Regions from separate parts of the Homo sapiens genome. Here region 1 is linked to region 2. Evidence: fine-mapped expression QTL. A gene starts in region 2. The other region holds a variant in brackets. All regions are shown on one strand. Distances are between the middles of the regions.

Region 1 (2,500 bases), 22 kb before region 2:
ATAGTGAGACAGATTTCCATAGCAGCCCAGCTGGCTACCTCCCACATCTTGCAGAGACAGAGACAGAGACAGAGACAGAGAGAGAGAGAGAGAGAGAGAGGAAGAGAGAGAGAGAGGAAGAGAGAGAGAGAGAGACAGAGACAGAGAGACTAAGACTGCTATCTTTTTTCTTTTTTTCTTTTTTTGAGATGGAGTCTCACTCTGTTGCCCAGGCTGGAGTGCAGTGGCACAGCCTCGGCTCACTGCAACCTCTGTCTCCTGGGTTCAAGCAATCCTCCCTGCCTCCCCATCTCAAGTAGCTGGGACTACAGGCACCTGCCACCATATTTGGCTAATTTCTGTTTTTTTAGTAGAAACGGGGTTTCGCCATGTTGGCCAGGCTGGTCTCAAACTCCTGACCTCAGGTGATCCGCCCACCTCGGCCTCCCAAAGTGCTGGGATTACAGCCATCAGCCACAGTGCCTGGCCTTGTTTGTTTTTGAGACAGAGTTACACTCTTGTCGCCCAGGCTGGAGTGCAATGGTGTGATCTCAGCTCACTGCAACCTCCGCCTCCTGGGTTCAATCGATTCTCCTGCCTCAGCCTCCCGAGTAGCTGGGATTACAGGCGCCTGCCACCACACCTGGCTAATTTTCTGTATTTTTAGTAGAGATGAGGTTTCACCATCTTGGCCAGGCTGGTCTTGAACTCTTGACCTCGTGATCCACCTGCCTTGTCCTCCCAAAGTGCTGGGATTACAGGCGTGAGCCATCGAGCCCAGCCTCAAGATCCTTAATTTAATCCCACCTGCAAAGTTCCTTTTGCCATGTCAGGAACCATATTCACAGGTTCCAGGAATTAGGATGTGGACACCTTTGGGGGTCTATTATTCTACCTGCCTTCAAGACCCTCCCTCCACCTATCCCATTAGGCAATTATGGGATCCATCTGCCCCTGGAAGGGACTCTAGATCCTGCTCCATCACTCCAACCAGTTTCTTTTCTTTTTCTTTTTTTGCAACAGGATATCTCTCCGTCCCCCAGGCTAGAGTGCAGTGGCACGATCACACCCCACTGTAGCGTCAGTCTCCCAGGCTCAAGCAATCCTCCAGCCCCCTGAGTAGCTGGGACCACAGGTACCTACCACCATTCCCAGCTCATTTCTTTTTCAATTTTTTGTAGATATGGTGGGGGGTGGGTCTCACTATGTTCCCCAGGCTGGTCTTGAACTCCTGAG[C/A]TCAAGTGATCCTCCTTCCTCGGCCTCCCAAAGTGCTGGGATTACAGGTGAGAGCCACTGTACCCAGCCGTCAATATATACAATTGATAGCAATAGGGGCTGACTCTTGTCCTGGCTGTAGCAGTGCTGAGAGCTCAACTATTCTCTGCGGTAACCTCTCCTCTTGAAATGTCCGTGATAAAAACAATTCCACTGCCACACGCACAAACATACATGCACACACACACATGTACACACATGCACACGCACACCCACACACACATTCACATACGTACACACGCACACACACGTACACACATGCACACGCACACCCACACACATTCACATACGTACACACACGCACACACATGTACACACATGCACACATGTACACGCACACACGTTCACATACATACACACACGCACACACACGTTCACACACGTACACACGCGCACACACGCACACACAAACGCTATTTTAGTAATAATTGGGAATTTTAGTGATGCTAGGTTTCCTTTTTTGTTTTTTTTGTTTGTTCTTTTTTTTTTTCCTTGAGACAGAGTTTCACTCTGTCACCCAGGCTGGAGTGCAGTGGCACGATCTGGGCTTACTGCAACCTCCTCCACCTCCCAAGTTCAAGTGACTCGCCTGCCTCAGCCTCCCAAGTAGCTGGGATTACAGGCACGCCAGCCGCCACACCCAGCTAATTTTTGCATTTTTCAGTAGAGACGGGGTTTCACCAAGTTGGCTTGGCTGGTCTTGAACTCCTGACCTCAAGTGATCCACACCACCCCCCCCCCCCCGCCTTCAGCATCCCAAAGTGCTGGGATTACAGGCTGAGGCACCGCGCCTGGACAGCGGTCATTTGATTTGAAGGCCACCTGATTTCAATGTGACCTCATTCTAGCTTAACTGATTACATCTGCAAAGGCCCTACTTCCAAGTCAGTTTCCTGCTATGGTTTGAATGATGGTTTCCCCTCCAAAATTCATGCTGAAATCCCCAATGTACTATCAATGTATGGTCTTTGGGATGAGCATCCTTATAAAAGAGCTCTACGTTGAAGAGAGCACTGTTCGTTGGTTCTTCTGCCTTCTGCTGTGTGAGGACGTGGCTCTTGCCCCTCCAGAGGACCCCCCAACATAGGCACCATCTTGGGAGCAGATTGCAGCCTTCACCAGAAAACAACCTTGCTGGCGTCTTGATCTTGGACTTCCCAACCTCCAGAACCATGACAAGTAAACTTCTGTTCCTTATAAATTACTCGGTCTCAGATATTTTGTTACAGCAGCAAAAATGCCAAAG
Region 2 (2,934 bases):
CCAGCCTGGGCGACGAGAACAAGACTCCATCTCAAAAAAATAAAATAAGGGTATGGCTGGGCATGGGTGGCTCATGCCTGTAATCCCAACACTTTGGGAGGCTGAGGCAGGAGGATCACTGGAGCCTAGGAGTTCAAGACCAGCCTGGGCAAAACAGTGAGACCCCATCTCTTTTTTTTTTTTTTTCCTTTGAGACAGAGTCTCCCTTTGTCACCCAGGCTGGAGTGCGATCTCAGCTCACTGCAACCTCCACCTCCTGAATTCAAGCGATTTTTCTGCCTCAGCCTCCCAAGTAGCTGGGATTACAGGCACCTGCCACCAAGCCTGGCTAATTTTTGTATTTTTAGTAGAGACGAGGTTTCATCATGTTGGCCAGGCTGGTCTGGAACTCTTGACCTCAAGTGAGTGATCTGCCCACCTCTACCTCTCAAAGTGTTGGGATTACAGGCGTGAGCCACTGCACCCAGCCAGTGAGACCCCATCTGTACAAAAAATAATAATAAATAAAATAAAATAAGGTTAAGGAATCATTATGAATCTTCCTGTAAACATCAAATGAGGCCATACACCCTAAGAATACAGCTCACAGGTCCCTACTGAATGTGACAGTTTAGTCCAGATGGGAGTTCCCTGAGGGCAGGAACGGAGTTTCAGCAACTGGTCCCCATGGCAGGTTGGAGTATGCACTAACCTAACATTTACTGAAATTTCAAAATGTGCTGGGTAAGGCTGGGCGCGGTGGCTCACGCCTGCAATCCCAGCACTTTGGGAGGCGGGGGTTGCAGTGAGCAGAGATCGCGCCACTGCACTCCACCCTGGGAAACAGAGCAAAAACTCCGGCTCCAAAAAGAAAAAGAAGTGGGAGGGCTAGGCCCGGCGTGGTGGCTCACGCCTGTAATCCCAGCACTTTGGGAGGCCGAGGCAGGCGGGTCACGAGGTCAGGAGATCGGGACCATCCTGGCTAATACGGTGAAACCCCCGTCTTTACTAAAAATACAAAAAAAAATTAGCCGGGCGTGGTGGCAGGCGCCTGTAGTCCCAGCTACTCAGGAGGCTGAGGCAGGAGAATGGCGTGAATCCGGGAGGCGGAGCTTGCAGTGAGCCGAGATCGCGCCACTGCACTGCAGCCTGGGCGACAGAGCGAGACTCCGTCTCAAAAAAAAAAAAAAAAAGAGGTAGGAGAGCTTAATATCGGGCTGGGAGGATGGGGTGGAGTAGGGTGAGCGAGGCGTCAAGTTCGATTCCTAAAAAGAGTAAAAGGGGAGCCTCAGTGAGGTTGGGGAGCAGGCCTCGGCTCCAAGATGAACCAGCACCCTCCCGACCCCCGGCAGCACCCCAGCCCCAGGAGTCCTGGCAGCCCCACCGACAGAGCTGAGCTGTGACCAGCGGTCGGAGCCACATGGTCACAGCCGCCACCAGCATCAACATCAGCATCGACTTGGGCTTCCGCCGCCACCACTGCCCCTCAACCGCCACGGGGAGTCGCTGCACAATCCGAGTACGTGCAGGCTGAAGCCCTGCGCATGCGCATCAATGAGTCCCGGGAGCGGGCCTCCGCGCACTGCAGCCCGGCGCTCCGCCTGAATCTTGAGCATGCGCAGACGAATCCCGGGAAGCCCGAATCCGCGCACCCCAAAGTGCGCTCAGAGCCTGAGTATGCGCACCCGGCCACCCGTGGCCAGTCTAGAGTCTGAGCATGCGCATGTTGTCCGCGCGCCTAAGCATGTGCACAGGCTGCTCATGAGTTCCTAAACGTTGCGTTTGCAACACTACCAGTGTTTTGTACGGGCGCTGGCGCCTGCTCACAGCCTTCCACGTGACCGGAAAAGGCCTTCAGCGCATAAAGTGGGAGACCGGAAGAGGCGGAGACGATCCGATGCTCGAACTCCGCCCCCTCTTCTCCGCGTAGGCCCAGCTCCCTGAAGCGGCTGTTTCGAGCCACGCGCCCATCGGGTACCGAGGCACGCGCCGGGCGTCACGTGCGTTTCGCGGCGAGCGGAAATGACGCGAGTTGTGTGAGCCGCCAGTATGGCCGGGCTATGGCGGCGAGCACTGGCTACGTGCGACTGTGGGGAGCGGCGCGGTGCTGGGTGCTGCGGCGGCCGATGCTGGCCGCCGCCGGGGGGCGGGTTCCCACTGCAGCAGGAGCGTGGTTGCTCCGAGGCCAGCGGACCTGCGACGCCTCTCCTCCTTGGGCACTGTGGGGCCGAGGCCCGGCAATTGGGGGCCAATGGCGGGGGTTTTGGGAAGCGAGCAGCCGCGGCGGAGGCGCATTCTCGGGGGGCGAGGACGCCTCCGAGGGCGGCGCGGAGGAAGGAGCCGGCGGCGCGGGGGGCAGCGCGGGCGCCGGGGAAGGCCCGGTCATAACGGCGCTCACGCCCATGACGATCCCCGATGTGTTTCCGCACCTGCCGCTCATCGCCATCACCCGCAACCCGGTGTTCCCGCGCTTTATCAAGATTATCGAGGTAATGGGAGTCCCCGCCTCGGCCTCAGGTTTCCCACCTGTGCAAGCAGCGGGCTGAACCGTGGGATCACTTGAGCGCCCTTGTGTTTCGCAACTTTTTCAGACATGAAGTTTCTCGAAGGGTGCAGTTCGAATCCTTGTCTGCTCACCACTAGCTTGGGAACCTTGAGCCAAAGTCCTCTCCCTTTCGGATTTCTTAGGATCCGTTAGATGAGAGGAGTTGAACCCGATGAGCCTAGGATTATCCACTTTAGAACGCCGGTCATAGAAATCCGGGGCCGGGAGGGACCTGAGTAGTGTTACGGCGCTGTTAGTTTTCTCCTTACTTGGCACGAGTTTTGTAATACCTCCTCGCCCCAGGCGCTCTGCCGTCTGGTTACGAGCCTCACTGGGATCAGAATTCATTCCTTTCTTAGACAAATACTTCTTGATTGCTTATTATTTGCCAGAGAGTGTTCTAGGTTCTG

Evidence for each region. PIP is the estimated chance that this variant, and not a neighbour inherited with it, causes the effect.
Region 1: its variant is the best candidate, but not a certain one, in a credible set for the expression of CATSPERD in sun-exposed skin (GTEx, PIP 0.70).

The regions. Positions count from the first base shown.
Region 1 is chr19:5,741,284-5,743,783 of GRCh38, reverse strand. The region is part of intron 7 of CATSPERD (catsper channel auxiliary subunit delta); the gene reads right to left. Among named protein-coding and RNA genes, the nearest start is that of CATSPERD, 22 kb to the right of the region's middle. The variant C/A (reference allele first, on the strand shown) is at 1,216.
Region 2 is chr19:5,719,238-5,722,171 of GRCh38, reverse strand. It overlaps CATSPERD (catsper channel auxiliary subunit delta), which reads right to left and starts at 1,535. Exons shown (of 22, transcript NM_152784.4): 1 at 1,364-1,535. The coding sequence starts at 1,434. LONP1 (lon peptidase 1, mitochondrial) reads left to right here and starts at 2,026. Exons shown (of 18, transcript NM_004793.4): 1 at 2,026-2,468. The coding sequence starts at 2,040. RefSeq lists enhancers at 1,777-1,876, 1,829-2,345 and silencers at 2,157-2,206, 2,337-2,416.